Linked DNA regions of Homo sapiens: all the other regions are reported to be linked to region 1. The links are microRNA targets in miRTarBase. Many come from high-throughput screens and were not tested one by one. Region 1 holds a microRNA gene; each other region holds the end of a gene's coding sequence.

Region 1 (4,000 bases):
AGAATCGCTTGAACCCGGGAGGCGGAGGTTGCAGTGAGCCGAGATCGCGCCATTGCACTCCAGCCTGGGCGACAGAGCAAGACTCCGTCTCAAAACAAAAAAGGGGGGGGCAGAGAGTAGGTGGGGTGACAGAATGGGATTTACGGACACAGAACTATCCTTTGGGGAGCAGAGTGGTATTGGGGACAGGTAGGCACGTAGCGGGGGGCAAAAGCACACGTGAGGTGCGTAATGCGCGACAGCCAAGAGGTGTGTGCGGCAGCAGTGCACGAGGGGAGGAAGCTATCCCAGGCCGCGGCAGCACGTGGAACTTGGGTCCCGCAGTCGCAGGCTGCGCTCTAGGCCGACGGAAGCAGTTCCGCCTGTATTCAGAAAACAGTTCTCAGCCCCAAAGACACAGGTTGGAAAGAACACTTTAAAAACACTTCGGCGAGGCACGGGATTGGAGCGCATCAGATCAGCAGGCGAGAGACCACAGCTCTCGCCCGCGCGCCGCGCGGCGCCCGAGGCGCAGCTTTGTGTGCGGCGAGACCCTGGGGCAGGCGCTGGGCGGGGTGGGGACATCTGACGTCAGCGCGCCCGGGAGCGCGGGCCGGGGAGGCGGGGAGCCCCCCAACTCGCAGGCCGGAGAAAACACGAGTAGCTAGGTGGGCGGCCCCAAACCTCAACTCCCGGCATTGCCAAGCAACAGCCATTCAGTTCGGTTGCTGGGACACGCGTCACCATGGCGACGGCTCCGCGCCGCGCAGTCTGAGTACTTAAAGAGCAAGCGCGCGCAACGCCCGGGCGTCGGAAAGCGGCCTTCTGGGACTCCGCAAACTCCCGTTCTCCCTCCCCCCTCCCCCTTGCCATTCCCTTTGCCTTCCGGGCGCCAAGTCTCTCTGGCCTCCAAGGTGAACCCAACTCCCCAGCGCGCCCCGGGTTCCCGGGTCGGGCCGGCTTCAGGCGGTGGGGAGCGGGATCCCGGGCCCCGGGCGGGCGGGAGGGACGGGACGCGGTGCAGTGTTGTTTTTTCCCCCGCCAATATTGCACTCGTCCCGGCCTCCGGCCCCCCCGGCCCCCCGGCCTCCCCGCTACCCCTAGCGGGGCAGCCCCCGCCCTCCTGGCTCTCCATCCCGGCGGATCTTTGATAGACTGGAGTGTCGCCGCTGCCACCGTGAGTAAGTGGGTCTGGGAGGACTTCGGGCATCCTCCCTCAGGCACCCTATCCTTCACTTAACTCCATCCAGCACCTCCCCCACCCGCATCCCCAAATCAGCCAAACTTCCCCTAGATCCCTAACTTCCACCCTCCCAGGCTTTCTCTTCTACTCGCCGATTCCTTCCACTTCCCCACCCTATCCCGGAAAATCCCTAAAATAAGCAGTTGCACTGGCTTAGAAAACAACCAAAACTTTATGGCAATGTGCTGTCATCTTTCCTGGGGTTAGTGCCTGAGTAATACCCCTTGAAAACTTCTCATCCCCTGAAGGGTGGGGTGACCACCCCTCTGGGACTGAACTCCTTTTGGGAGCCAGAGAAGGGTCTGTGGTTGGCTGAGGGGCTGTAGCTTAGACCTCAGGGTCTCCAGGATGGACCCCAAGGCCAAAGGGTCTAAAATTCTGAATTCTGAATCTGGTGGCCTCCTCCTCACACCCTTCCCTGGAGCAGCTGCCTCCGGAATGGCTCAAAGTCCTCAGGCACTGTGTCTGAAGAAGGGGAAATAAGTAAGGTCAGAGGATGTGGCTCTCCCACAAGGCATGAAGGATTAGGTTGATCTCAATCAGCCACCTCACCATTGCATCGATACTGGAGATTGGACCAAATTATGTTTTCTTGGGAGAAGCAGAATACACCAAGACGCCCCCCTCGCATGGATGTGTCAATGATCACCCCAGAATCCGCCACAAGCTGGGGTCCCTCATAGAGCTTCACCCTGTCCAGGATTCCAGGATAGGAGTATCCATTGGTGCTAGGGTGCCAGTGGGCACTGTGCCACCATGCCTGGGGCCTTGCTTTTCCCCAGCCCCCCTTGAGCTCACCAGGCCTGAGAGAGAAGGGAGGGAGGGAAAGGGAGGCAGGAAGGAGAGGGAAGGGGGGTGCTTTTCTCAGGCCTGGGGCCCCTAGCTCTTTGTCCAGCTCCTTTTGCATCTCAAAGCACCAGCCGCATTCCAAGCGAGGATTGGGTTGCCATGACAATAAGCACAATGGGCTGGGGGGTGAAGTCACCCGCTTCCCAGGCTCTAGTCCACCCCCTTTTATCCCCTGTCCTGGCACCCCACAGCCCCAGGCACCTTAAAGGGGAACCAACCCAGGTTCCTGGACTCTGGGCTCTTGGCCATGGAAAGTCCAGCCTCTAAGCAGACCCATTTCCCCTCCCTTCCTGTTCATCTCCACCAACTAGGGCTACTTGTTGGAGAGAAATGCAAAGTTGTGGACAAAGTGTTGAACCGAGGCCTGTGAAGTCAGGGCCTTGATTTTCTCTTCTGTAAATGATGATGCCTTCCAGGTCAGATGATCCCTATCCACGTTGATAAGACAGGTTCCAGGTCATACCAACTAAGGGACCAGATGTGATGTGCCCCTTCACAGATTGGCCTGGGTTTGGAGGCTTCTGGAGAACTGTAAAGGGCATCTAACCCAATGCCCTCATTTTACAGACGGGAAAATGGGTCATGGAGGAGTGACTTCACCAACATCACTCATAGGTGCTTGTGTCCGTGGTGAGAAGGGTGATGGAGAGAAGTGGCTGCAGTTCCCACCCATGGAGAGGTCACTGGTGAATCCCAGCTAAAGAGGAAGGACAGGCCCGGCCTGAGTCCCACAGGTGGGCTCAGCCCCTCTCCTTACCGAATGTAGCCAACTTGAGGCCGGTGCAGAAGCTGCCAGCGATAGGAGGTCTTGTCCCGCCAGCCCACATTTCGTGGGTCTGTCCACAGCAGTCGTACCTGATCAGGGGTGTGGCCAGTATGCCACAGGGCATTTCGGAGGTGCTCACCTGGGCCAGACACTGATGTCACTGCCTAGGAGACATTGGCAAAGACAGTGGGTCAACTGCAGAACTGGAGTGAGGGGAGACAACAGGTCGGTAAGTGCAGGTGGGAAAGGGATTCAAGGCGGTCATGAAAATGCCCTGGGGCCCCAGAGAGCCGGCCTCCAAGCCAGATGTCTGGGTAAGAGGGTTCCCAGTCAAGCAGTGGGGGAGGCCCTGGGGCTGCAGAGGAGAGCTTTGGGAAAGGGCCCTGGGTTGCGGAATCTGAGCAGCTGGGGACCTTGAGCTGCAGCCCGGGCTGGGCAACCGCCCGGAAGGGTGTAGCCTGCCAGTAGGTCTGCTCGGTCTGCTTCCACATGACTACGTAGAAGCGGCCACTGTCTTGATAACTGAAGAGAAAGCCTGCGTAGTCATCATCAGTCACTGTGTTCACATGGAAGGTGCCTTCAAAGTCCACACCATTGAAGGCCGTGTATCCTGGGGTGGGGGTGGGATAAAGGTCAGGGGCAGCAAAGCTACTGGCGGCCCATCATGGGGTAAAGTTGGGAAGGGATGCCTGCTATGTATGTGGCCAGCTTGTGCCACTGCCTTCTCTCTCGCCACTTTGCCCATTCTCCCTGTCTGTTTCCTCCCCTACCCTCTGCCCCTATAGGATTCCTCCATTTGGAAGTGATTGAACTGCATATCCCTTACATACCAACTGCCAAGCCAGGGTCACTGTTCATGGTCTGAACGATTTCCATGCCCTGGGGTTGTATAGTAAAGAAAAAGCTGTGATGCAGGTGTGCTATCCCTCCCAGGCCCCCCGTCCCAGTAGCCCTGTCTGATAGCACCTGCCCAGCCCACTGCCCCGAGTTACCTGGTTGAGCACAACCCAGTTTGGGTCAATCTGAGCATCACCCTCAGGATCCAGGACGACGGTCTGATAGGCCCGAAAATCCGTAAGCGTTACCTCTGCACTTTCAGGACACACATCCAGGGGGTCGACCACAGCATCATTGTCAAAGTCATCCTCACACACATCACCAAC
Region 2 (4,592 bases), not on the chromosome of region 1:
CACCAGAGGGCAGGCCCATTCAGCAGTCGGTGGGAGACGACTATGGGAGAAGCGTCTGCCAGCATCCCCACCACTGTGGGCTCACTTCCCAGTTCAAAAAGCTTCCTGGGTATGAAGGCTCGAGAGTTATTTCGTAATAAGAGCGAGAGCCAGTGTGATGAGGACGGCATGACCAGTAGCCTTTCTGAGAGCCTAAAGACAGAACTGGGCAAAGACTTGGGTGTGGAAGCCAAGATTCCCCTGAACCTAGATGGCCCTCACCCGTCTCCCCCGACCCCGGACAGTGTTGGACAGCTACATATCATGGACTACAATGAGACTCATCATGAACACAGCTAAGGAATGATGGTCAATCAGTGTTAACTTGCATATTGTTGGCACAGAACAGGAGGTGTGAATGCACGTTTCAAAGCTTTCCTGTTTCCAGGGTCTGAGTGCAAGTTCATGTGTGGAAATGGGACGGAGGTCCTTTGGACAGCTGACTGAATGCAGAACGGTTTTTGGATCTGGCATTGAAATGCCTCTTGACCTTCCCCTCCACCCGCCCTAACCCCCTCTCATTTACCTCGCAGTGTGTTCTAATCCAAGGGCCAGTTGGTGTTCCTCAGTAGCTTTACTTTCTTCCTTTCCCCCCCAAATGGTTGCGTCCTTTGAACCTGTGCAATATGAGGCCAAATTTAATCTTTGAGTCTAACACACCACTTTCTGCTTTCCCGAAGTTCAGATAACTGGGTTGGCTCTCAATTAGACCAGGTAGTTTGTTGCATTGCAGGTAAGTCTGGTTTTGTCCCTTCCAGGAGGACATAGCCTGCAAAGCTGGTTGTCTTTACATGAAAGCGTTTACATGAGACTTTCCGACTGCTTTTTTGATTCTGAAGTTCAGCATCTAAAGCAGCAGGTCTAGAAGAACAACGGTTTATTCATACTTGCATTCTTTTGGCAGTTCTGATAAGCTTCCTAGAAAGTTCTGTGTAAACAGAAGCCTGTTTCAGAAATCTGGAGCTGGCACTGTGGAGACCACACACCCTTTGGGAAAGCTCTTGTCTCTTCTTCCCCCACTACCTCTTATTTATTTGGTGTTTGCTTGAATGCTGGTACTATTGTGACCACAGGCTGGTGTGTAGGTGGTAAAACCTGTTCTCCATAGGAGGGAAGGAGCAGTCACTGGGAGAGGTTACCCGAGAAGCACTTGAGCATGAGGAACTGCACCTTTAGGCCATCTCAGCTTGCTGGGCCTTTTGTTAAACCCTTCTGTCTACTGGCCTCCCTTTGTGTGCATACGCCTCTTGTTCATGTCAGCTTATATGTGACACTGCAGCAGAAAGGCTCTGAAGGTCCAAAGAGTTTCTGCAAAGTGTATGTGACCATCATTTCCCAGGCCATTAGGGTTGCCTCACTGTAGCAGGTTCTAGGCTACCAGAAGAGGGGCAGCTTTTTCATACCAATTCCAACTTTCAGGGGCTGACTCTCCAGGGAGCTGATGTCATCACACTCTCCATGTTAGTAATGGCAGAGCAGTCTAAACAGAGTCCGGGAGAATGCTGGCAAAGGCTGGCTGTGTATACCCACTAGGCTGCCCCACGTGCTCCCGAGAGATGACACTAGTCAGAAAATTGGCAGTGGCAGAGAATCCAAACTCAACAAGTGCTCCTGAAAGAAACGCTAGAAGCCTAAGAACTGTGGTCTGGTGTTCCAGCTGAGGCAGGGGGATTTGGTAGGAAGGAGCCAGTGAACTTGGCTTTCCTGTTTCTATCTTTCATTAAAAAGAATAGAAGGATTCAGTCATAAAGAGGTAAAAAACTGTCACGGTACGAAATCTTAGTGCCCACGGAGGCCTCGAGCAGAGAGAATGAAAGTCTTTTTTTTTTTTTTTTTTTTTTAGCATGGCAATAAATATTCTAGCATCCCTAACTAAAGGGGACTAGACAGTTAGAGACTCTGTCACCCTAGCTATACCAGCAGAAAACCTGTTCAGGCAGGCTTTCTGGGTGTGACTGATTCCCAGCCTGTGGCAGGGCGTGGTCCCAACTACTCAGCCTAGCACAGGCTGGCAGTTGGTACTGAATTGTCAGATGTGGAGTATTAGTGACACCACACATTTAATTCAGCTTTGTCCAAAGGAAAGCTTAAAACCCAATACAGTCTAGTTTCCTGGTTCCGTTTTAGAAAAGGAAAACGTGAACAAACTTAGAAAGGGAAGGAAATCCCATCAGTGAATCCTGAAACTGGTTTTAAGTGCTTTCCTTCTCCTCATGCCCAAGAGATCTGTGCCATAGAACAAGATACCAGGCACTTAAAGCCTTTTCCTGAATTGGAAAGGAAAAGAGGCCCAAGTGCAAAAGAAAAAACATTTTAGAAACGGACAGCTTATAAAAATAAAGGGAAGAAAGGAGGCAGCATGGAGAGAGGCCTGTGCTAGAAGCTCCATGGACGTGTCTGCACAGGGTCCTCAGCTCATCCATGCGGCCTGGGTGTCCTTTTACTCAGCTTTATAACAAATGTGGCTCCAAGCTCAGGTGCCTTTGAGTTCTAGGAGGCTGTGGGTTTTATTCAACTACGGTTGGGAGAATGAGACCTGGAGTCATGTTGAAGGTGCCCAACCTAAAAATGTAGGCTTTCATGTTGCAAAGAACTCCAGAGTCAGTAGTTAGGTTTGGTTTGGTTTTGGACATGATAAACCTGCCAAGAGTCAACAGGTCACTTGATCATGCTGCAGTGGGTAGTTCTAAGGATGGAAAGGTGACAGTATTACTCTCGAGAGGCAATTCAGTCCTGGGCAAAGGTATTAGTACAATAAGCGTTAAGGGCAGAGTCTACCTTGAAACCAATTAAGCAGCTTGGTATTCATAAATATTGGGATTGGATGGCCTCCATCCAGAAATCACTATGGGTGAGCATACCTGTCTCAGCTGTTTGGCCAATGTGCATAACCTACTCGGATCCCCACCTGACACTAACCAGAGTCAGCACAGGCCCCGAGGAGCCCGAAGTCTGCTGCTGTGCAGCATGGAATTCCTTTAAAAAGGTGCACTACAGTTTTAGCGGGGAGGGGGATAGGAAGACGCAGAGCAAATGAGCTCCGGAGTCCCTGCAGGTGAATAAACACACAGATCTGCATCTGATAGAACTTTGATGGATTTTCAAAAAGCCGTTGACAAGGCTCTGCTATACAGTCTATAAAAATTGTTATTATGGGATTGGAAGAAACACGTGGTCATGAATAGAAAAAAAACAAACCCAAAGGTAGGAAGGTCAAGGTCATTTCTTAGATGGAGAAGTTGTGAAAGATGTCCTTGGAGATGAGTTTTAGGACCAGCATTACTAAGGCAGGTGGGCAGACAGTGACCTCTCTAGGTGTGTCCACAGAGTTTTTCAGGAGAGAAAACTGCCTGACCTTTGGGACTAAGCTGCGGAATCTTCTTACTAAGCTTGAAGAGTGGAGAGGCGAGAGGTGAGCTACTTTGTGAGCCAAAGCTTATGTGACATGGTTGGGGAAACAGTCCAAACTGTTCTGAGAAGGTGAACTGTTACGACCCAGGACAATTAGAAAAATTCACCCACCATGCCGCACATTACTGGGTAAAAGCAGGGCAGCAGGGAACAAAACTCCAGACTCTTGGGCCGTCCCCATTTGCAACAGCACACATAGTTTCTGGTATATTTGTTGGGAAAGATAAAACTCTAGCAGTTGTTGAGGGGAGGATGTATAAAATGGTCATGGGGATGAAAGGATCTCTGAGACCACAGAGGCTCAGACTCACTGTTAAGAATAGAAAACTGGGTATGCGTTTCATGTAGCCAGCAGAACTGAAGTGTGCTGTGACAAGCCAATGTGAATTTCTACCAAATAGTAGAGCATACCACTTGAAGAAGGAAAGAACCGAAGAGCAAACAAAAGTTCTGCGTAATGAGACTCACCTTTTCTCGCTGAAAGCACTAAGAGGTGGGAGGAGGCCTGCACAGGCTGGAGGAGGGTTTGGGCAGAGCGAAGACCCGGCCAGGACCTTGGTGAGATGGGGTGCCGCCCACCTCCTGCGGATACTCTTGGAGAGTTGTTCCCCCAGGGGGCTCTGCCCCACCTGGAGAAGGAAGCTGCCTGGTGTGGAGTGACTCAAATCAGTATACCTATCTGCTGCACCTTCACTCTCCAGGGTACATGCTTTAAAACCGACCCGCAACAAGTATTGGAAAAATGTATCCAGTCTGAAGATGTTTGTGTATCTGTTTACATCCAGAGTTCTGTGACACATGCCCCCCAGATTGCTGCAAAGATCCCAAGGCATTGATTGCACTTGATTAAGCTTTTGTCTGTAGGTGAAAGAACAAGTTTAGGTCGAGGACTGGCCCCTAGGCTGCTGCTGTGACCCTTGTCCCATGTGGCTTGTTTGCCTGTCCGGGACTCTTCGATGTGCCCAGGGGAGCGTGTTCCTGTCTCTTCCATGCCGTCCTGCAGTCCTTATCTGCTCGCCTGAGGGAAGAGTAGCTGTAGCTACAAGGGAAGCCTGCCTGGAAGAGCCGAGCACCTGTGCCCATGGCTTCTGGTCATGAAACGAGTTAATGATGGCAGAGGAGCTTCCTCCCCACTTCGCAGC
Region 3 (4,559 bases), not on the chromosome of region 1:
CTGGCTCTTGGCATGTTGATTATCTTTAAAAAAAAAAAGAAAAAAAACCCTTAGATCTGCTCAACTATCTTGTAAATTGCTTGGTGTAAAAACAATGTTTGTAGCTCCTGGTCTTTCCTGCACGGCATTTAGCATATAATGAGTGCTTAATAAGTAGGTGCTTCCCACAGAGGACCTGAGCTTTGCCAAAAAAGGTTTCTACAGTTCAGTTAAACTTTCTTGTTAATATTTTTCCTGTCTTTCTTTGAACCCATTTGAGACAAATTTTTATGTTTCTCCTTTTCTGTAAGGTTCAAGATTATCTAAGAAGATTTGAAAGTATACCAGATATGCTTGAATTGGATCACCTCACAGTTTCAGGAGATGTGACATTTGGAAAAAATGTTTCATTAAAGGTATGTTGTTACAATGAAAATTATATTTCTTACAGCTTACAATATAGGTCTCATTTTCTAGTCATAAATTTACATTTACTTTAAGGAATACTTGTTAGTCTTAGTGCCACCTTAATTACTAGTGTAATTATTTTACTGAAATGAGAATCTTTAAAATAGGATCACTATTAGCATTAGCTTACTAAAGATGATTGAGTAAAAGCAGAAAAAAAATGACAATTTGTACTGAATATAACCTATTAAAGGAATGTTATCACTGTAAGAATATTCATTTACATTATTGTAGTACTCAGGTACTCTTCAGTGTCATTCCAGCCTCACGTAAGAAATAGGAGGGAAACGGGGGTATAAAAGTATTAAAGCTCACCAAAGATACAATAGCTTTTTCCAAATCATGTAATTTTTTAAAAAATCTCCTAACTAGATTTCATATACTCCTCCCATTAAAGCTACTTACTTAAATGAAGATCTTGAAAAAACAAATACATATATTGAATTTTATTGCTGAGACTGCCTAAAGACTTAAGACATGAAAAATCTTATCAGTAAACTGTTATAAAAACAACAACAAAAGCCCTATATGTAAATGTAAACCAAGCACCTTTTAATTTCTCTATGAAGGTTAGATAATGCTGGTGGCCTTGCAAGTAGGCCTCCAAAAGGGGCTGGCCATGCTGTGGCACCGGGTCCACTTCCCGCTCTTAGTTCTACCTCTAACAAGGAGACAGAGAATCTAGAACTACTGCCAGGATTGTTACAGAAGGACACATTACAATTTTCCTTAACTGTTATTTGTTTTTCATGTTTAATATTGTTTATAAAAAAAGTTACTTCACTGTAAAAAAAAAAAAGTTGTACATAAACTTGATCACTGTAAGATAATCAAATTGCATTTCAGTTGCAAGTACACTCTTTTGTTTTCCCTGTCACTTAGGGAACGGTTATCATCATTGCAAATCATGGTGACAGAATTGATATCCCACCTGGAGCAGTATTAGAGAACAAGATTGTGTCTGGAAACCTTCGCATCTTGGACCACTGAAATGAAAAATACTGTGGACACTTAAATAATGGGCTAGTTTCTTACAATGAAATGTTCTCTAGGATTCTAAAATAGGCAGGTACTTTACTATGTTACTGTACCCTGCAGTGTTGATTTTTAAAATAGAGTTTTCTGCAGTATGCTTTTAGTCTAAGAAAAGCACAGATGGAGCAATACTTTCCTTCTTTGAAGAGAATCCCAAAAGTTAGTTCATCTTAAAGTGCAATATTGTTTAATCTTAAAACTGGGCAACTTTGGAAGAACTTTTAACAGAAGCCTCAATGATGATCACTTTGAATTGCTTGTGATTTCAAAAATAAAGCAGTGAAGCAATACTTGTGTACACTGGTACTTTATAATGCTAACTATAAACTGGTTTATTGTTGTTAGACAGTTACTATATTAGTTGGAAGATTTGCCCTTTAAGTACACACTGGCTAGTTACCTAGCCAGTGTGTACTTAATGAGTCCAGTTTTTGGCATTTCTAAGAATCTTAATCATACCATTATTTCCACAGGAATTAAACTGAAGGTATTTTCTTTAGTACCTACCTTTCATCTAGTTCTAAAACTGGGATGCCTGCCATGCTTTCCACAAACTCTCCATTTATTGAAACAAAGTGGCATTTATTTTCCCAGCTGACGGGGGTGGGCAAAGGGAAGGCATTTCTTCACATCCTTGTACTCTTCTATAGTGAGGTAGGGGGTATAGCTTCATAAAAAGTTCCCTTTCCCTGAAGCTTCATTTCCTGAAGCTTGTTTATTATCACTGAAAAAATGATCATTAATAATCTTTCCATTCAGGTCTGCTGGTAGTTCAATTTATGCCTTTTCTTTAAATTCATCCATACTTGTTTTGAGTAGGCTGCTTGTTTAAAGTTCACAATATACCACTTAAAAAAAAGTTGCCTTTTAAAGTCTGTTAATTTTTTACAGCTTTATTTTAGACAGATAGTTTAAGAACCAAAGACATACCTCTGTAATGATAAAGGAAAGAAAACAAGCTTTCCTTTTAAGAAACCAAAGAGCACAAAATAAGACTGTTTCATTATACATAATCACCACAGGATATTAGGCACTCTGACAGGGTTAGGCAAGATTCTTGGTGTGAGGTGAAGCACAGGCACTTTATTTGTACAGTGCTGCTGATTCTAATTTTGAAGGTAGGTATTATAAAAGTCTTTACTTGTCACCTTATTTCTGGCCCCAACACAGCAGCCTATAGTTTTAAAAGTTCTGTTTCTCCCTGGTCTTTGTTCGTATACACATCGAAAGTAACTTAAAAACAAGGATCCAAGGGGGCCATACTTCATATGTTATCTAAATGTTAATATGAGAACTCAAAAGTAGGCAGATTATATGAATACATATTCTTACCTCTGCTACAAATAAAAACACCCCAAACCCTTCATCATACTTTTATAAAAATACAGATATTAAACTGTAGCCTTTTATATACCATTTCTGAAAAGTATTTAGTTGCATAAATAGATGCCAGGATCTTTTTTTTTAAGTATTAATTACTTAAAAAAAGGCTTAAGTCTTTCAGGTATTTAGAGAGCTCTGGAAGGCTTTACCCAGTTGACATACGGTGGTAGTAGAAATATTAAATATGCAACACACAAAGCCTGCAACTTGACATTGGTCACTGAAACAAAAATTGAATTCCTAAATCCAAGCAATCAAAAGATGTTTATTTTTTATAGAAAGATCTGTAAAAAAATAATAATTTTTCAAACAGCTTTACTTTCATAGAGAAAACTTTCTACAGAAGTTGACTAAGATTTTAAATTGTACCATCATTAAATAAGGTGGGACACCATATGAATTTCATTGCACTGGAAGAAATGCAAAGCATTTTTTAATATAAAGTATACAGAGCATTCTAGTCAACTACAGCTGTGTTACAGCTATGTGTTCTTTTGGATTTGGTCCAAAGAAACCTGAGTCTGTTTCCAGAGAGAATGAAAAATGTTATAGACACCTGATCAGTTACTCCTCACTGTAGGATGCACAAAAATGACATTCCTTGTAGATCCCACTGAATCCAGTTTCCCAACACTTGATACTTTCCTTTTTCCCTTCCCCCACCCCAGTTCACTTTGGGTTTCAGGTTCAATTCTCGAATCACAGGCATCCAGATTTTCTTCATAACAAACACATCCCATGGTCAGATGAACTACCCAGTTTTCCAGGATGACATCACCTCTTCTGCTCCCAAATTTCGGCCATATTTAGGTCCAAATCTTTAAGGCCTTTTAAGGCTTGAAGATTTCCAGTGTAAAAAGCTACATCTGCTGTGACCAACCTAAATAATGGAGAGAAAATTATTTTTTAAATCTCAAACTTTCTATTCAGATAATTAAAGTAACAGTGCTCACCGAGTCAGAGTCCTATTATCTAAAATTCAGATTTCTTAGTGCCCAAGTGTCCAAATACTTTACTTAGCAGGATTCCTGCTATGAATAAGTAGGCCATTTAATGCTGTACTTCAATAATAAATATTTGGAAAATGAATAAACCAATGGCTGTTAGAGTCAGTTTCATGATAAATTCAGCCCAAGAAAATCAGATTTATCTTGAAACAGCATGAATTAATATACAGAGAAAATAACAGGCTAAACTAAAATGTTTTTGATTGGTTAGCACTAGAGTATGGGAGTGCTGACTAAAATAGTAAACTCAAGGGAAAAGCAGGCTAGGTTTCTAAGTGTCATCTAAGGCGTTAAATACAGACTAGTATTCATGTATATAAGCGATACTGGATATTTCTTTAAAAACCCAAGAGAAAAATAGGAAAGAACATAAGAAGTCACAGATGAAAACACCTGAATAACCAATAAACTGAAAAAATGGTAAACGTCAGGAAAATGCAAATCAAAACAAGGTACTACTATCCCCCATCAGACTAGCAACAATTAGGAAATCTAACAGCAAATGTTGAAAAGATGTGGGAAACAAATTCTCACAAACTACTCCACTAATGTGGGAGTTGGTACAGCCACTGTCAATACCTAACAATATGAAAAGTGTATTAGCTCCAATTCACTTATAGGTATATGCCCTGAAGAAATGGTCACACCATTAGACATGTATAAAGATCTTCAGTATGGCATGGTTAT
Region 4 (4,679 bases), not on the chromosome of region 1:
GTGAATGGGGTAACCTGCTGTACCCGGATGCTGGGCTGTACATACCTCTACCCTTGGATCCTCCCCAAGCCCCACATATCTTCCACTCCGCTGACCATTCAAGATGAGTTGCTGATTCTGGGAAACAAAGCATTGTGGGAACACTTGTCCTACACAGAAGCTGTCAATGCTGTACGTCACGTACAAGACCCATTAGCAGCTGCTAAGAAGCTGTGCACATTAGCGCAGAGCTATGGCTGTCAGGACAATGTAGGGGCGATGGTAGTTTATTTGAATATTGGTGAGGAAGGCTGCACTTGTGAAATGAATGGGCTCACCCTCCCAGGTCCTGTGGGATTTGCTTCAACCACCACTATCAAGGATGCCCCTAAGCCAGCCACTCCATCCTCTAGCAGTGGGATTGCCTCTGAGTTCAGCAGTGAGATGTCCACCTCAGAGGTGAGCAGTGAAGTGGGGTCCACTGCTTCTGATGAGCATAATGCTGGGGGCCTGGACACTGCCTTGCTTCCGAGGCCAGAGCGGCGCTGCAGCCTCCACCCAACACCCACCTCTGGGCTGTTTCAGCGCCAGCCTTCTTCTGCTACCTTCTCCAGTAACCAGTCTGACAACGGCCTGGACAGTGATGATGACCAGCCCGTTGAGGGGGTCATAACCAATGGCAGCAAGGTAGAGGTGGAAGTAGACATCCACTGCTGCAGGGGGAGGGATCTGGAGAACTCACCCCCTCTCATAGAGAGTTCTCCTACCCTGTGTTCTGAGGAACATGCTAGAGGGTCGTGTTTTGGGATCCGAAGACAGAACAGTGTGAATAGTGGCATGCTCCTGCCAATGAGCAAGGACAGGATGGAGTTACAGAAGTCTCCCTCCACCTCCTGCCTCTATGGGAAGAAACTCTCCAATGGCTCTATTGTGCCCCTAGAGGACAGCCTGAACCTCATTGAAGTGGCCACAGAAGTGCCCAAGAGGAAAACTGGCTATTTTGCTGCCCCCACTCAGATGGAACCAGAGGACCAGTTTGTTGTGCCTCATGACCTGGAAGAAGAAGTGAAGGAACAAATGAAACAGCACCAGGACAGCCGGCTCGAGCCTGAGCCCCATGAAGAGGATCGGACCGAGCCCCCGGAGGAGTTCGACACAGCACTATGACTGCCCCACTGGGCACAGTGTGGGAGGAGGCTGTGCAGGGTTGGGGTAGGGACTTGCTAGAGGCATTCTGCCTCTACATTTCTTTTTGTTTGTTCGTTTTTTTTTTGTTTGTTTGTTTTGAGACGGAGTCTTGCTCAGTCGCTCAGGCTGGAGTGCAATGGTGGGGTCTCGGGTCACTGCAGCCTCTGTCCCTGGGTTCAAGCCATTCTCCTGTCTCAGCCTCCCGAGTAGCTGGGATTACAGGCACCTGCCATTATGCCCGGCTAAGTTTTATTTTTTTTTTTTAGAGACGGGGTTTCACCATGTTGGCCAGGCTGGTGTTGAACTCTTGACCTCAGGTGATCCACCCTCCTCTGCCTCCCAAAGTGCTGTGATTACAGGCCTCAGCCACCATGCCCAGCCCTGCGTCTACATTTCTAAACCATAGCTGTGTGGGGTTGAACTCGGAGCCAAAAAGTGTGAGAGCCATCAGGGGCTGGCTCTGGATAAACTGGTAGCCACTATCAGTGTTAAGTTTCACATTTAACCTGCATTGGAATTCCCAGGGGTACTGGGAAGAAAGCAGCTGTTCTGTATCAGTCCTACCACCTGCCATTAACCCTTTCTCTCCTAGGATCATTTTGAGAATTTGCCTGCCTGGGCAGGAAAGGGACTATTTCTGTGGAGGAAAAAAGTGAAGATTGATTCTCTTTACTAGTTGCTGCTGATGGATCTCTGTGACAGAGAAATCACCTTATCTCAGACTAATGGGGTGTGATGTGACTAGTCACATGGCTTTTCATTCTTCTCTACGAGAATACAGCCTATCAAAATGATGTCTGTTGGAAATGTAGAACCAATCAAACAGATAATTTATGTATGTAATGTAATGAGAGCACTTTTCATTGACTGTGAACTTTTTATTTTTGAATCTGCACTCGAGCCAATCTTCTTAGAGGCAGCCCGGCACCTTCATCCATAGGCAGAGAGAGAACTGGGTGTTGGAGACTTATTCGAGGGTATAGGAAGGGCCCTGTGAAGTTGATTTAACTTTTGGATGTCAGACTGTGAAAGCTCCTGAGAAACTTGGGGTAATAGGATCTTCTTTTGGGGATGAAAATGGGGAAGGCGTGAGGACCTAGACTACTTCTCCCTAGATCAGAAAAAGAGAATTACCCCTTGACAAATATGATACCTGCTAGGTATTTCCCAGGGAAATTTAGGGATTGGCGTCTTTCCCTAGCATGTGGAGGAATTGGCAGACAGCTTCCTAAGGGCGGGGAGCGGGGGCCCAAGGCTGACACTGCTTGCATCCACGTGACCTTAAGTTATGGCAGATGACTCTGAAACGGACTGAGGCCAATGAGAACAGATGGATGGAGCACTCAGGTTAGACTTGTTCCTTCTCCTATGCTGGAGGAGAGGGATGGTTCTCTAGAATGTTGGAGGTGAGTTGAGAGCTCGCCTCTTGAATGTTGAACAGTGTACTCTTCTGAAAACTGCATATTCACTTTATGTGGTTTCAGAATACTGGGCTCAATACTAACATAAGAAAGACACTTCATTGAGAAATTCTTAAGCTTACAGAAAACCTATACTCTTTGCACATTCCACATAACCCTAGCAAAATGCAGTTTCTTCATACTTCTGTCACTTTTTCCATTGGAAGATTTGCTTAGGAAAATTAATTCCTATTTATTCCCACAAAATGTTGGCATTGCTTGATTTTACCCAATGGGGAATGTGCTTTGAATTTTTGGAACACTTTTACAATTAAAAATAAAGTAGGGCCATTTTTAATTTGTTTCATCAGAAACTATGTTAAAGAGAGGGTTAAATATAAATATATTTTCGTGTGTATTTTTGGGAAGATTTTTGTTCAAAGCAATAGTCAAAATCAGATGACCTGTCCATAATAATTATGTGTCTTCATCTTCTCAGAGGCCCCATGCTCATATGCACGTGTCATTGGGATACACTCTTGGGGGATTTGGTACACTCTAATGGATGTCTAATGTTCAACCCCTCGAGAATCTGAACTTGAGTCCCCAGATTGTCAAACTACTGGTCAGCTATTGAGAATTTTAGAACTCAGGTCTTTGATTTGAAGTAGGGAACATAGTGGCTCACACAGAGTTTAGGTGCTGTTAGAAAGATGGGAACAAGAGTGTTTTGCCACCTTATTTTTATATGGGAAATTTTTTTTAATGAAGAAAAAATGAAAATGAAATAACAGGATGATAGTGATGAGTGATGTAAAACATCTTACTTAGATGGCAGAACCTTCGGGTTGTAGAATAGTGATGTCTAAAAATTAAAGTTATTTTGGGAATACACCACTTTAATAGTATAGTCTTATAAAAATTATTCATTATGGTGAACCCTTCTTGTCTGCTATTCGTTTCCCAACCTACTTATTGGAACCACCTCAAAACCCAGTTCTGAAATGACCTTACCAAAAGTAAATGTATTTATTTTTTAGTCAGCAGAACTCTGTAATTCCAAATGTTGTTCTGTGTGGTAGAATTTTTTTTCAGGAACCATTAGGTTGTATTGAAAATCTTTGTTATAGGCGATACCAAAACTGATTATTCTTTTTTGCAGTCTGCTTTAATTCATGTCCTTCTGCAGTTGCTCTGTATTAAAACAGGGTAAAAAGGCCATAGCCCATTATGAAAAATATAATACAAAACTCTTTGACCTATGAGGTAACTTACAGACATTGTGTTTTCTAAACAGGCTGTCAGTGAAAGCCCGTATCTGTCTCCAGGTGAATGTAATTTACTTCCGAGTACTTTACCCAGAGGATGTGTTCCCCAGGTGGGCAGAGTACAGTTGATCTCTAGCACAGACAGAGATTCTGGCCTCTGCATATTCTCAGGTCTCTGTGTGTACCTCCCATTGAGTAGAGAAGCTTAAGATAATTTCTGAGAGAAGAACACTGCTGATTGTGGGAGCAGTTTAGGAGTCCATGGAAGAAAGAAAAATACATGTGTCTTGGCAGCCATGGTGTATTTTTGTCCAAATGGATTGGAAGGATATTTGAATATTTGAATGTTGGTATGACATAAAGCTGCAGTGCACTATAGAGTCAAGTCATTGAATTACCACTCCTGATACAGGGCTTTATTGTACTACTGTGAAGTGTATGTGTGCAATACATTGGTGAGTTCATTTACTGGTGTACGGAAGAGCCAGCAGGAGCAGCGTGGTCATTGCTGGGTGCTATTACAGTTGCTTGTAGTGAGTGCTGTTTTCCAGGAGATGGAGCCAGTTGGGTGTGGCAGATCTACTGAATATCAAATGATGCTCTTCTTCCCATGTAGACCTTCAGCAAAAGCCGGTACTTGGAAGCCACAGGCTCACCTTCTCTATCTATCCAATAATTATTAATGAAGAGACCTCCATAAGGGAGCAGCTGGCTGTTATCGATAAATGTACCAATTATTAAATAATTAGTCTCCAAGCCATTCAGTGATGTCTTCAGCATCACTATAGGACTGTCTAGTGTCACTTTTTACTTCCTTCTGGGTGGAGGCTTTCCGACTCCCAAT
Region 5 (4,679 bases), not on the chromosome of region 1:
TACAGGCAGATCCCTTAAAATTGAGGATTAATGCTTAGGAAGAATTTTTTAGAATTTTCCAAATTAACCACTTGTCTTTCTCAGAAATAAATCTGTTACTGATGCTTCCTCCACCAACCAGCTGCAAAACCACACACTATTCTTTGAAGGAGGAACACAGAAAACCAACTTACTTCCTGGGGCATTTGGGAGAGGAATCTAAAAATCCTAGTGATATGGCAATGACTAGAACCTTTTTTTTTTTTGTAACAACAAAGCTAAAAGGGGATGTGTAACTTAGCTTGACTTGTAAAAATATTCGTAGAAGTCATCTATATTTTACCACTTTGTGTAACTAAGGCAGAGCATTAGAGATTATTCACATCATTAAATATGTCCAGTTAAATTATTAGATTACAACACCAACCTCTTGTTCATAGTCTCTCAGTCTTCAGCTGGGCACGGGGGCTCACGCCTGTAATGCCACCACTTTGGGATGCCGAGACGGGCGGATCACTTGAGGTCAGGAGTTTGAGACCAACCTGGGCAACATGGTGAAACCCCGTCTCTACTAAAAATACAAAAATTAGCTAGGCGTGGTGGCAGGTGCCTATAATCCCAGCCACTCGGGAGGCTGAGGCGGGAGAATCACTGGAACCCAAGAGGTGGAAATTGCAGTAAGCCAAGATGGCACCACTGCACTCCAGCCTGGGTGACAAGAGCAAAACTCTTGTCTCAAAAAAAAAAAAAAAAAAATAGTCTCTCAGTCTTCATACTTTGTTGCTTAGTTGGATTATCTGCTCCTAGGTTTTAATATAAGATGAAATAAAAGTGCTGGCCTAGGAATTGGAGGCCAATTTACCTTAGGGGCAAAGGCAATGGTGGTGAATATACCCAACAGCTTCACTTTCTATGGAGCCAGCTTGTAAAATCTTGGGCAAGGATGGTGGCAGCAGAGCTGTCTGCCTAAGCATCATGTAGAAAATTTTTTAATGGTTTCTTTGGACCCTAGCTTGCAGTGTCATTTCTGCTTCTCATTGTATTGGAAATCCATGGTTTTGTTACATAATGTACTCCTAAAAATGTATACACATGTGTTGAGTATGTGGAAGTTGAATATATTTATGTTATAAATGAGCAGTTCTGTTTCTGGAAAATGAAAATTTTCACCTCATCACTACAGACATTCTTTGATAACACAGTCCCAGTGTTTCATCCAGATTATTTCATTTTCTTCTTTTACATATAACCAACCATTTTGGATGTTAAAGGAACAACCAGTGAGGGCTTAAGATCTGCTGCTTTTGACTTGGCACTCCTGATCAGTTCCATCCGTGTCTCAAGTGTATCACATTCACGAGACAAGGCTTCTCATCAGCAATTTCAATTTTATGTTTTCTACTTATTTTTATATAAGAATACAATGCAACAAAATATTCATATATTGCACAAACAGTGATGTGCATACAAAGATGCTAACAACATTGGCTGGTAATAGGCTTTACCATGTTACGATCTAAATGCTTGTTCATCAGAGAATGTACAAAATTCTAAGTTTGGCATCCAAAAGGGGGCTTACAGTTATTGAATATTTTTCCCAGCCCTATTTTAAATCAAATTCAAGTTTGCCTATGACAAAGACTGTCTATAAGTAACAGGGCAAGCATACCAACATCAAAATTATTCTTCTTCTTATCTCACGTGCCCCTATTTCTCCCAAATAAGTGACAAGGAGAGTAAAAGGATCACTGAGGGAACATTTGAAGAATGCTACTAAGTGCCAGGTCCTGTACAAGGTAATTAATTACTACAAACACTCTCGTGATGGACATGGCCAATAGTGTATTTTGTCAAAAAACAAAAACAAAACCCAAGATTCCAGAAGCTGTTTCTGACAAGAAGTCCTTGTTTCAGTACTCTTCAGTATGAGTCCTTACTTGCAGGACTGAGGAATGAAATTGAGAAAGAACCTTTAATCATTAGAAAAGGACCCAATAAAACTATACTTAAATGGATCATTAATGTGGATTTTTTTACATTCGTGTGGGATAGAGAATAATCCCATGGGAAACAAACACATTTTGAATATTTTTTAAAGAAGTATTTCTGATTCTAATTTTACTGTATGTTTAGGCATCATTAAGGACCTCTGATTTGAAGGTAGATTTATGTGCCAGGGACTCCAAATTCATGACATGTTTTAAGGCTCCATATTCCATGCAAAAATGGACTTACTGAGCATGGTGGTAATAATAAGTATGTAAAAAATAGATAACTACAGTCGTACTTTGGTATCCATGGGGGATTGGTTCCAGGATCCCCCAGTATCAAAATCCACAAATGCTCAAGTCCCATATATAAAATAGCATAGTATTTGCATATAACCTATGCACATCCTCCTGTATGCTTTAAATCATTTCTAGATTTCTTATAATATCTAATACAATGCCTACACATCACTTCATTTACATGAATTCAACATACTTCTTGGCATGCAGCAAATTCAAGTTTTGCTTTTTGAAACTTTGTAGATTTTTTTTCAAATATTTTTGATCCAAGGTTGGTTGAATCCACGGACACAGAACCCATGGATTTGAAAGGCTGACTGTATTTCTATTTTAGGTTTGTTTTTCCTCCTCAGAAGCCTCAACGAAGAAAAAGTCAAAGGTCCTTCTCTCTCTATGACCAGAAATAAAACCTATAAAGGAAATAGAGCACTAAGTGGGGTCCCTGGAATCCCCAGCTTCTGGTTTCCAGCCACTTCTAGATGTTCTCTGGAAACATAACTGCGTTGAAACCATACTGAAGTATAAATTCCCAAATTGGAAAGAAAACAAACAAACTTGGTAGTCTCATGCCTGGGAGATACGGAAGATGGAAAATTCTGGAAGACCAATAGGCACTGATGAATTTCTACATCTGGGCATTTCTTGAGGGAGAGAGGGCCTGGCTATTTGGAGATGGAAAATGTGGTGACCTAGAATGAGCAGGCCCAGTCTAGACTAACCTCTTTATTTAACCAACTGAATAGTCTTGGTTCCAGACTTCTGTGGAACCTCAGATTTGCCTTCTGTATAAGAGGAGTTTGTACTAATCCCTCTAGTCTTTTTCAGTTGGTTGTGTGTGACCAGCCCTAGCACTTAAATACCCTGCTGAATATACAGAAAAGTAGAAGAATTATTTTAAAATTAGGTCACTTATCTTACTTGAATACTACAAGTCTCACACTATAACCTCTTCTAGAAATCAGGCTGAACTAGCAAATACATAAAGACTAATATAAGTGCATTTCAGTAAAATCACTGGTGAAGTACATTTATGATCATTCTTTTTAGGCTTCTGATATGGCAAATTAGAGGTAAGTATTTCGATTAAGTCTTCATCCTTTTGGCAAACAAGTATATGGTTCGATATACTTGGTGATGGTGAATGAAGCCCTTAGTTTTTCACTTCTTCGTGCCTTAATAAAATCTTCGAGGCAAGCCCAAACCAGCAGGGCTGCAGCATTATCAGCAATGAGAATGGATCTTAAGGTCAACAGTCATGCTATAAAACTCAACATGAAGACATCATTAACAGGCTGAAGACTGTGAGTCTTAAAGTCCTGAAGTAGGCAGGTTTTAGGAGGTGGAATCAGCGTCCTCTGGGTGGAACAGGTGGAGGAGGATGGAAGGTCTCCCTGGTCGGAGGCCTAAAATGAAAGATAAGGCAACTCTATTTAAAAACTAATTTGATTAAACAGTTCTTAGGAATGCACAATTTGTTGCAAACTTGGTATACTATGCAAAGGACACAATCCTCAATGAGACAGGACACACATATGAATGTATGAGTGACACGCATGCTAGCTGTGGCTTGCAATCCTGGCGGCACATTAGAAACACCAGTGGAGCTTTTAAAAATACCAATTCCAAGGATCCATCCCAGACCCATCGCATTCTAAGCTCTAGAGGATAGGACTCAAGCCACAAAGCTTTTGAATAGTTTCCCTCCCCAAACAGCTGTCCTCACCAATCCTTTCATTATCTGATGTTTTGCCATCTTGGGGCCTTGCTGACCCTGGAGAGACTGCCCCTCCCAGGGTAAGCTAAAATTCCTAGAAACAGCAAACAAGCTACTTGCCTTCCAGTGCTAAATATACCTTTCGTATGCAAACCAACCAGTCCAGATGCATGCCCCAACCACCTCCTCTATGGGGCTTTCACACTCCACTTTATGGGGCCACCATCCACTTGCCCTTATCACCCTAGGGCCAGGTACCAGACGACTAGAGTCAGCCCTTATGCCTCAGAGCCAATGAAATTATTCAAACTAGCCAATTCTAAATCTTACCCAGGCTCACCTGTTTTGTCCCATGGAAACCACAATAAAAGCTCTTGTCCACATTTTCCCCTGCTCCTCTGCCTCCTCACTGGCCCTGATGCTTCCCCATGTAGCCCCCTATGGGTTGATGTACCCCTGTTTTGGGATCTGTGAGTATAACAAACTATCTTTTCAGTGGCAGTTGTCTCCTGAGCTGTTGACTTTGCCATACCTACATAATAATAAAACCTAGGTTTTAAAACACCAGCAATTCTAATAGCCACTTGGGAGACACACTGTAGTAGGGAGATTTGTTGAGAGAGGAATTGGAATTTCCAAAGCCTGCTTCTCATGACTGCTTCCTCATGAGATAACTGTTATCTCAACTGTTATCCCAA
Region 6 (4,679 bases), not on the chromosome of region 1:
AAACTCAGGTACAATTTATTCATAGAAAATAACTTTCTGTTGTGAAATAGCAAAATGCAGTGTTCCCAATCCAAGTGTAAGTTTAATTTTTAGAGTAGACTGGGTGCAGTGGCTCACACCTGTAATCCCAGCACTTTGGGGAGGTGGAGGTGGGTGGATCACCTGAGGTCATTAGTTGGAGACCAGCCTGACCAACATGGTGAAACCCTGTCTCTACTAAATACCAAAAAAAAAAAAAAAAAAAAATTAGTGGGGCATAGTGGCGCATGCCTATAATCCCAGCTACTTGGGAGGCTGAGGCAGGAGAATTGCTTGATCTGGGAGGTGGAGGTTGCAGTGAGCTGAGTTTGCGCCATTGCACTCCAGCCTAGGTAACAGAGTGAAACTCTGTCTCAAAAAATATATATATAATATATATATATATTTTTTACGGTAGATTTTAAACACCAAAATTATGAAAAGAGACTGTAGCTAACCTTATTACATGCCAGTTCTTCTAATTTATTTAAGAATTATTTTAACTTTTTTTTTTTCATTCTATTTCAGGCTGGTACACCCCTCCAAAGGAAGATGGCTAAATGTGTTGACTGTTGTATGTTTGGACTAATGTTGCTTTAAAGAAAATCTTTCTAACATGCAGACAAAAGCTTTGAGTGCCCCTATTACAGCAGTACCGAAGATGTTAGTTAATAGATATTTTAGTGGATAATCTGTCATCTGACATCCAGTATAAGTTACAGCCTTTGCATTTTGCTCATTTTAGATATCTTGGACTGAGCAGTGGGGCCTTTACTGTATTTTTCCTGATAAATACACATACTGGCCACTCCTTATCTCTTTTTCTTGAAAAGTGAACTTTTTAAAGCAGCCAAGTCAACATCAGGCTACTGAAGTTGAGGCTTTAGGGTAACTTTCCTATATTGAGCCCATGGGTTACAAGGATTTGCAATATATTGTTCCATTTACAGCCAATACAGGTTTAATCGATGTTCAATATTGGTTTAGGAAATTTAAGGCCTTCTAAATCATAATAGCTCTTTCATGTCTAAAACCATTTTATGATATTGCCAAAATGTGATAGGAAACCTACTCATTAAATTGTTAAACTTTTTAATGACTATGTGAAGATATGAATTGTTTCCTGAAGATAATACTCTTAATTGAGTTGTATTGTACTTCTTAGGCAAAGCAGTGTAAAACTGTATCAATTAAGGCTTGTGAGTAGTGATTTCCACTGGGGCATCAGAGTCTTGGCTGGGCTGAATCTGCTGCTTGTTGGTTCAGTGTTTCTTATGAACAAGAGCCACAGTACAGAGCTTCAAGTTATTTAAAATACTAAGTCATCTTACGTTTCCATTTTATTAACGGGATGTTGCAATCGTTTGTAAACTAATAAACTTATAAAGTGATTGGCACAAAGACTCCTTGAGCAAAAGCTGTGCAGTTAAGTACAAAAAGATACTTAATTTGGAGACTCTTACAGTAATTTTTGCCATGTCAAAACAATGGCTTTTACATTGAAAGATTAATAGAAACTCTACATATGTTAATTTTTTTATAGAACCTGACTCAAATCAAGGTACTCTCCATTTTATTGCCTTACCTGAATCAGTCCTTTTTGGTTGGTAATAGATTTTTTTATACACCCACGTTTGATTTAAAAGTAAATTCTAGTTCTTAAGCACTTTTAACAAATCCAGAAGCACATTTTTCTGCACAAACAAGTTACAAAGTTCAAAAGTGTTTCTTGTGCATTAGCTTTGAGATTCAGTTTTTAACTTTGTAAACCACATCTGAGAGACTTGTCATTTCTACATTGTGTGTGTTTAATTTCTTTTGATTCCATTTTGGTTAAGAGAGCAGTAAATAGATTTTCTGGTATTCTTGTTCACTTGATTACATTTGTATAAAGTTCTGATTGCCAGTTGCTCAGATAACAAGTGACAAGGCAGAATTCTTTAAATCAGTAAAGTTCCTTAAGCCTAAGGCTAAATCTTGAATACATTGTTGAATTCTTTAATATCCTGATGGCAAGCAGACTGATAGCTGCACATTTGGCATGCTTTGTTTAATGGATTTTATTTTTAATTGCAGATTTATTTGGCAATGTACAGTAAATTTTGTAAACTTGCATCAAGTTTATGAATAAAGAACCATTTAAAAATTTTGTTTGTGCTGATCATGGCAAGCAAAAAAAAGATTACTTTCTCATTTTTCCCTCATAAGAAAACTCTGCTTGATGTGTTTGTAGGCTTTATTGAGTTTCTGGAATAAGATATTTAAGGAGGGAAGTGGTGAGGGGAGGCTTGGAAGACAGGCAGATTTAACAAGAGAAAGTGAAAGTGTGAAAGAACCTGGAAATAGTCTGTACAATAGTCACCTTTTCCTCCGCCTTTTTCCTCTTCCATTCTCATTATAAATTCAAGTGCTACTTTTTCCTTATGGCTATCCTTAGTTCCCCCAGTGAAAATAATCTGCTCCTTCCTTAGCATACCCATGGCCTCCTTGCACACAATTGACAGATTATTTCACATACAAGAAGTCCAGAGGTAGGACAACTCCAGGTACTGTACATCTGGGCTTTGCTCTGCTTCCTTGAGATTTTTCTATGTTGGTTTCATCTTTTGGTTGCATGTTATGTGCAGCCCCCTTACTTGATCCAGAGGTAGATAAATGGCCCTGTCTTCTAGTGTCTCCTTAGGAGGTGAGGAAATCTCTAAAAGCACCATCCCATCAAGCACACTGCCTCTTGCCTTTCCTTGGCTACATCAGGGACCTGTGCCCACCCCTAAACCAATGGTGGTGAAAAGAATGAAACCATCGTGATTAGTTTGCACAAATGGTTCTCAAAGCCTTATTTGGGGAACACTGGAGACCCCTGAGACCATTTCAAGAGGTTTTAAAAGACTATTTTCATAATATTAAAACATTTGCCATTTTCACTCATTCTTCCATGTGTACAATGGAATTTTCCAGAGGCTACATGATGTGATTTTGCAACAGATTGAATTCAGAAGCAAATATGAGAATCTATTTGTCTTCTATTAAGACAAATTAAATATTTGCAAAAATGTAGTGATGCCGTCACTGGTAAACTGTCCTCTTTCCCTACTTTATATCAGCCACAAAGAAAGAACGCCCACTTTGAAAGGCAGTCAGGTTTCATTCAGTAGCCAGAGAATGGAGAAGGGGAGCTCATACTCTAAAGGCACCTTCTCCCAGAGGGATGGGAGGCTGGGGAGTTTAAAGAGTTAGCTGAGGGGCGGGGGAGGTATGAACGGCATGCACAGACTGGAGTTCCAGACAAGCAGGCATAGTCCCTGAACATGCTGCTTCATACATCCATGTTCGTAAGATGCCAGTGAGCTTTCTTTAGGGAGAGGATTTTAGCATTATGTTAATTATCTAAAGGTAACTGGAGGGCGCCTGTTTATCTTCCTCTGGTATTCCGCAAGGGGTCAGGAAGCTCTGGTGACATCTGGGCCATCTGGCTTCCTTAAGCAGCTGCGCCTATAAATAGACTATGGGAAAAAACTGGCTGGGCTTGGTGGCTCATACCTGTAATCTCAACGCTTTGGGAGGCGGAGGCAGAGGGATGTCTTGAGGCCAGGAGTTTGAGACCAGCCTGGGCAACATAGACCCTGGGTCTACCAAAAAAAAGAAAAAAACCACAGCTACTCAGGAGGCTTATGCCACTGACAATGTCATACTATCCACCAGTGGGGGAAGGAGGATTTGGGAAATAATTGTTTTCCATAAAAATATTTCGTTAATGTATAACATCGGTTTTTTAAAAAGAGTTAAGCATTAAGATGTTCTGATTTAATTTTTAATATGGTAAATATTGATAGTCATAACACACATAAACTATTGGTCGTGTCAATATTTTAGGGTGTAAAGGGTCCTGAGGCCATAATGAGAACTGCTAATTTAGACCAAGTTTCTGCCCAAGATCTGGCGATCAAATCAGGGCTCCCTTAGGAAGGAATTGGCGGGAGGAATGGATGTTAGGTGGGGACAAACCTGTGTCTGCTGTGCTTCCATTTCTTGGTGGTTCTCAGTTTGAGCATGCATCAGAATCGTCATAAAGTGTGTTAAAACAGATTGCTGGGCCTCACCCCCAGTGTCTGATTCAGGAGGTCTGGGATAAGGACCGGGAATGTGCTAAAACTTAGTAGTTTCCAGGTGAATCTGATGTCCCTGGCGGGGAACTGGTGCACAGCTTGGGGCGTGCTTCACAGCAATCATCTCACTCAGCTACCTTAGAATGGCAGGTGCTATTTATGCCATTTTACTCATTCGAAACTTTAAACCTGAAGATTACAACGAGTTAACTAAGTTTACAAGGAATAAAGGCAGTGATTTTCACACACTAAGACAATTTTTTAAAAGCAAACGTCCGTTTATAAATCGAGCTTATGCTATTTAAACAGGCATTGGGACTACGAAGAGCAATAAGTACTACCTAGTCCCTGCAAGGAATTTGTGAATTAGAGAAAGATGTAAACTCAGAAATATGGCGGTGCCAGGGCAGTGAGAGGCACAGGCACAGAAGAAGAATTTATTTTCACTGCAGGAGGCCTCCTAGAAAGTTGCCAGGAGCGGTGGCTTATGTCTGTAATTCCAGCACCTTGGGAGGCCCAGGCGGGAGTATCGCTTGAGCCCTGGAGTTTCAGACC
Region 7 (4,679 bases), not on the chromosome of region 1:
ACATTTGGAATTCCAGTTTGGGGATGGTAGTTGCAAGCACCTAAACAGTTTGCCAAGGAATGTTTCTCCTGAGTTTGTTCCTTGTGAAGGTGAAGGAGGCTTTGGTTTGCACAAGAAGAAAGACCTACTCAGTGATAATGGTTCTGAATCACTTCCGCATTCAGCTGCATACCCCTTTCTTGGAACCTTAGGAAATAAACCCTCACCTAGATGTACCCCTGGTCCTTCTGAATCAGGATGCATGCATATAACCTTTCGCGATTCTAATGAAAGACTTGGTTTAAAAGTATATAAATGCAATCCACTAATGGAAAGTGAAAATGCTGCATCTGAGAAAAGTCAAGGTTTGGATGTTCAGGAACCTCCAGTAAAAGATGGAGGGGACCTTAGTGACTGCTTGGGCTGGCCTTCCAGCAGTGCAACCTTATCCTTTGACAGTCGTGAAGCATCATTTGTACATGGTAGGCCACAAGGAACTTTGGAAATACCAAGTGAATCTGTTAAATCCAAACAGTTTTCACCATCCGGTTATCTTTCAGATACAGAGGAAAGTAATATGATTTGTCAAACAATGAAATGTCAGCGTTATCAAACTCCATACCTGTCAGAAGAAACCACGTATTTGGAGCCAGGAAAGATCAGTGTGAATTGTGGACACCCATCTCGTCATAAGGCTGATAGATTAAAGTCAGATTTCAAAAAACTGAGCAGTACATTACCATCTTCAGTGTGTCAGCAGCCTTCAAGAAAATTAATTGTTCCGCTATCTAGCCAACAAGATAGTGGCTTTGATAGCCCATTTGTTAATCTAGACTAATTATGGTACAGTATTTAAGAAGAATCATTAATATATTAACAAAAATGGAAGGGAAGACCTCATACTGAAAAAAATTGTGAGCCCTGCCTCTTTTGAGATGTTTTAATAACATCTGTTATATAAGTAAAGCATTCTTCTAAAATTGCTTGAGATATTTATGTTGCCTTAATATTCCAAAGGCCTGATGGTGTATGTATAATCTGCTTTTGTGTGGTGCTTATTTTTGGTTTCTAAACCATCTATTTTTATACTTATAAATTGACTCACTCTGCAGTGTTAACTTATTTAAATAAACTTGCATATGGTCTGTAGAATTGTTATGAATTATTTTGTGGTTCAGAATACAGAAATGTCATATTGGCATCATGTTTGAAATTCACCCAGAAAAAAACATAAATTTTGATTATTTGTATGTGTTAGTCAGATTTAGTTTTTGAAATTAGTCATGTTTAATGAGGCTATGAACTTAATCTACATAGACTTTTCCTAGCAATATCTACTCAAAATTTTGATCTTTTTTTCAGTTAGAGGTTTTCCAGGGTTTACTACAAAATACATAGCTATGTCCTGGTTTTATTATTTAAATATTAGTCTGAATTTTTTTAGTTCTTACTTGCATTATTTCAGATCATCTGTGACATCCAAAAACTTTGTCTCTTTTATGGCTTCACATTTGTTTTTTCATCTGAAATACGACCTTTTGAAAAATTGAGATAAGTTTTGTCATGTAGCAAAAAATGTAAAACGATTAGATTTTTACATTCATTTATAGTGCAGAACTGGCTAATTAATGCTCTAGGTTAAAGGTTATAATTCTAAACTGAAGAATACATGCAGAAATGAATGACTACCTAAATATCATTGTTTTTAGGTGAATTCTTTTTCAGATCCCTAGCGATGGGTATGAACATTTAGCTGTATGCAAGTGCTTCCGAAAACAGTTAACTATAGCTTTCTCTCACATCTCCCACACCTACTATATTATGGATTGTATTTGGGGGTTAATCTAGTGTATTTTTCCACCCAGAGCCAGATAACTTAGGTGGTGATGGGGAGACGGCAAGATGCATCCTCCTCCTCCTGATAACCATCTCTAAAAGCAAGAACCGAGAAGGAAAACTTTTTGGGCTTGGAAAGCTCTGTCACCTTAACTCTTGACCAGGGATAAATAAGTCTAAAAATTGGTCCTGGACTTCAGTGCTTGAATTCACATACAGCTATAGTAAGGAACAAACCATCTTGTCAAAGTCTCACTTGTATTCCTGAAGATACAATGCTCCTTCTCCAACAGTTAGGCTGTCATCTCTCACTCTAGAAAAAAACTCTAAAACAGCCAAGTTTATGCTCCCTATGGATCTGGTTGGTGCTTGATCGTTTTAAGCCCTTGTTTTTAGTAAACTTAGAATCTAGGCTCGTTGCTCACCTACCTTTTCCACTTGGTTCAAAATCCATGTCAGTTATTTAAACTCTCAACATTAAGGTTGAAATTGGAAGTTCTCTTGCTTTCTGCTCCTTTTAGAGTATCCTTAATCTTTTTTGATACTCATAATCTCAATAGGATTAAGTTACTTTATGTCATACATCCTATATCCAATTGGTTGGAGATAGGGTGTGGTATAGGGTGTATGACAAGGTAACCTAATTCTATTATGATAAATATGAAGGTATCCACTTATTAGTGTGCAAATGAAGGGACTACACAGCCAAACTATGACTAGTGGTGTACATTGGTTTGAAAGGTCATGGCAGAACAAAAGGGAGGCAGGAGCCCTGTAGATATCATGATCACATAAATCTCACTTTGTCATGATATTTAGCCCTTTTTTTAATGTTGCTGGATTTTTATTTTATTTTATACTTTGTTAAAGATTTTCATGTGTATGTTCTTGAGAGATATTGGTCTCTTGTTTTCCCATGCTCTCTGTCTTGCTTTGGTAAAAGGGTAATACCAGTCCCATAGGGTGAGTTGGAAAGTGTTTCCTTGCCTGTGTTTTCTGAAAGAATTGGTGTAGCATTGGTATTACTTCTTCTTTATATATTGGATGGAGTTTACTAGGTGAAGGCATCTAGCCTGGGCTGGTGGTGGGGGTGGTGCAGAAGTGTGGATTTTAAGTAATGTATTTTCTTGTTATAGAGCTATTCATAATTTCCATTTTTTCTTTAGTCAGTTTTGGTAGTTTTTGGTTTTTGAGGAATTTGGCTATTTTATCTAAATTGTCTAATTTGTTGACACAGTTAGCCATAGTATTCTCATAATCCTTTCATTTCAGTAGGCTTGATAATGATGTCCCCCTTTCATTCCTGATTTTGGTATTCTGTGTCATCTCATTTTTTTCTTAGTCTATCTAAAGGTTTATCAGATTAGTTGATTTGTTTTCCCCCAAAGAACTTTTGGGTTCTTCTCTTTTCTCTTGTTTTTCTATTGCCAATTTCATTGATTTTTCCCTCTTCCTTCTGTTTGCTTTATGTCTAATTAACTGTTCTTTGTTCTTTTTTTTAAAATTTATTTATTTTTGAGATGGAGACTTGCTCTGTCGCCAGGCTGGAGTGAAGTGGCGCGATCTTGGCTCATTGCAACCTCCGTCTCCCGGGTTCAAGCAATTCTCCTGCCTCAGCCTCCCGAGTAGCTGGGACTACAGGCGTGTGCCGCCATGCCCAGCTAATTTTTGTATTTTTAGTAGAGACATCGTTTCACCATATTGGCAAGGCTGTTCTTGAACTCCTGACCTCAAGTGATCCGCCCACCTCCGCCTCCCAAAGTGCTGGGATTACAGGCATGAGCCACCACGCCTGGCCCTTCATCGATTCTTAAAGTGAAAGTTTAGATTATTGATATGAAACTGTTCTCTATTGATATAGATGTATAAAGCTCTGAATTTCTCTCTAAGCACTGTTTAAGTTGCACCTCATATGTTTTGATATGTTGTATTGTTGTTTTCATTTAGTTCAAAATATTTTCAAACTTCCCTTGCGATTTTTCTTTTGACCCACAGATTATTTAGAAGTATGTTACTTCATTTCTAAGAATTGCAGATTTTCAAAGTTTCTTTCTTATTTATTTTTAATTTACTTGTTTTCAGATAATATACTTTGAATGATTTCCATCCTTTTAAATTTCTTGAGACTTGTTTTATGGCCTGGCATATGGCCTATCCTGGAATGTTTCACATGCACCTGAAAAGAATGTATATTCTGCTCTTTTTGGATGGAGTATTCAAAAATGTCAGTTCAAGTTGGTTGATAGCATTGTTCAAGTCTGCTATAGCCTTGCTGATTTTATTCCTATTTGTTCAACTGGTTATTAAGAGTGAGATATTGTAATCTCTGGCTGTAATTGTTAAACTTTTTTCTTTCAATTCTGTCAGTTCTTGCTTCATGTATTTTGAAGCTTTGTTGTTAGGTATATATACCTTTATATCTGTTATGCCTTTCAGATGAATTGGCCCTTTATTATTTTAAAATATCCCTCTTTGTATCTACTATATTTCTTGTTTTAAAAGTCCATTGTGTCTATAATTACTACAGCCACTGCAGCTCTCTTATGATTACTGTTTGCATGGCATGTCTTTCTGTTTTTTTCCTTTTAACCTATTTGTATCTTTTAATTTGAAGTGAGTCTCTGGAAGACAGTATAGTGCTGGATGTTGCTTTTTTTTTTTTTATCAGAGAAGCTTTGATTGGAGTTTTTAGGTGCATTAAAATTTACTACAATTTTGTTAGGTTTGCATTTTCCATTTTGCTATTTGGTTACTGTGTATCTTTCGTTATTGAATTGCTCTTTTATTGCCTTCTTCTGCATTAAACAGATATTTATGAGGGTACCATTTTAGTTTTTTTAACCTTTTTTTTTTTAGCTATTTTT

Evidence for each region. The annotated mature microRNA hsa-miR-92b-3p reads UAUUGCACUCGUCCCGGCCUCC and lies in region 1 at 1,025-1,046, shown strand. An mRNA with a match to its seed (bases 2 to 7 or 8) in the 3' UTR can be bound and repressed. Matches are read on the target gene's strand: a 7mer-m8 pairs with bases 2 to 8, a 7mer-A1 pairs with bases 2 to 7 and ends in A, and an 8mer does both.
Region 2: the mRNA of TSC1 is a reported target of hsa-miR-92b-3p. Seed matches in the 3' UTR shown: 8mer at 659-666.
Region 3: the mRNA of VPS54 is a reported target of hsa-miR-92b-3p. Seed matches in the 3' UTR shown: 7mer-m8 at 3,270-3,276.
Region 4: the mRNA of PHLPP2 is a reported target of hsa-miR-92b-3p. Seed matches in the 3' UTR shown: 7mer-m8 at 1,299-1,305 and 8mer at 4,278-4,285.
Region 5: the mRNA of PIK3AP1 is a reported target of hsa-miR-92b-3p. Seed matches in the 3' UTR shown: 8mer at 1,422-1,429.
Region 6: the mRNA of UBE2Q2 is a reported target of hsa-miR-92b-3p. Seed matches in the 3' UTR shown: 7mer-A1 at 945-951.
Region 7: miRTarBase lists CEP152 as a target of hsa-miR-92b-3p. The part of its 3' UTR that is shown has no 7-base or 8-base seed match.

What each region holds. Positions count from the first base shown.
Region 1 is chr1:155,194,213-155,198,212 of GRCh38, forward strand. MIR92B (microRNA 92b) reads left to right here and starts at 965; the gene lies at 965-1,060. It overlaps THBS3 (thrombospondin 3), which reads right to left. Exons shown (of 23, transcript NM_007112.5): 18 at 3,830-4,000; 19 at 3,668-3,716; 20 at 3,251-3,447; 21 at 2,829-3,001; 22 at 1,775-1,914; 23 at 1,376-1,687. The coding sequence ends at 1,629. THBS3-AS1 (THBS3 antisense RNA 1) reads left to right here and starts at 785. Exons shown (of 6, transcript NR_183238.1): 1 at 785-1,160; 2 at 2,639-2,805. RefSeq lists a silencer at 468-797 and enhancers at 1,954-2,789, 2,790-3,625.
Region 2 is chr9:132,891,982-132,896,573 of GRCh38, reverse strand. TSC1 (TSC complex subunit 1) reads left to right here. Exons shown (of 23, transcript NM_000368.5): 23 at 1-4,592. The coding sequence ends at 339. Among named protein-coding and RNA genes, the nearest start is that of SPACA9, 15 kb to the right of the region's middle.
Region 3 is chr2:63,889,791-63,894,349 of GRCh38, forward strand. It overlaps VPS54 (VPS54 subunit of GARP complex), which reads right to left. Exons shown (of 23, transcript NM_016516.3): 23 at 2,360-3,745. The coding sequence ends at 3,640. UGP2 (UDP-glucose pyrophosphorylase 2) reads left to right here. Exons shown (of 10, transcript NM_006759.4): 9 at 291-395; 10 at 1,330-1,770. The coding sequence ends at 1,437. Among named protein-coding and RNA genes, the nearest start is that of UGP2, 50 kb to the left of the region's middle.
Region 4 is chr16:71,645,357-71,650,035 of GRCh38, reverse strand. It overlaps PHLPP2 (PH domain and leucine rich repeat protein phosphatase 2), which reads left to right. Exons shown (of 19, transcript NM_015020.3): 19 at 1-4,679. The coding sequence ends at 1,146. Among named protein-coding and RNA genes, the nearest start is that of MARVELD3, 22 kb to the right of the region's middle.
Region 5 is chr10:96,591,965-96,596,643 of GRCh38, forward strand. It overlaps PIK3AP1 (phosphoinositide-3-kinase adaptor protein 1), which reads right to left. Exons shown (of 17, transcript NM_152309.3): 17 at 1,351-3,670. The coding sequence ends at 3,613. All of the region lies in intron 2 of LOC105378443 (a long non-coding RNA gene), which reads left to right. Among named protein-coding and RNA genes, the nearest start is that of TM9SF3, 7.3 kb to the left of the region's middle.
Region 6 is chr15:75,898,881-75,903,559 of GRCh38, forward strand. It overlaps UBE2Q2 (ubiquitin conjugating enzyme E2 Q2), which reads left to right. Exons shown (of 13, transcript NM_173469.4): 13 at 547-2,198. The coding sequence ends at 578. Among named protein-coding and RNA genes, the nearest start is that of FBXO22, 2.7 kb to the right of the region's middle. RefSeq lists enhancers at 4,166-4,679, 4,650-4,679.
Region 7 is chr15:48,734,387-48,739,065 of GRCh38, reverse strand. CEP152 (centrosomal protein 152) reads left to right here. Exons shown (of 27, transcript NM_001194998.2): 27 at 1-1,128. The coding sequence ends at 817. Among named protein-coding and RNA genes, the nearest start is that of CEP152, 74 kb to the left of the region's middle.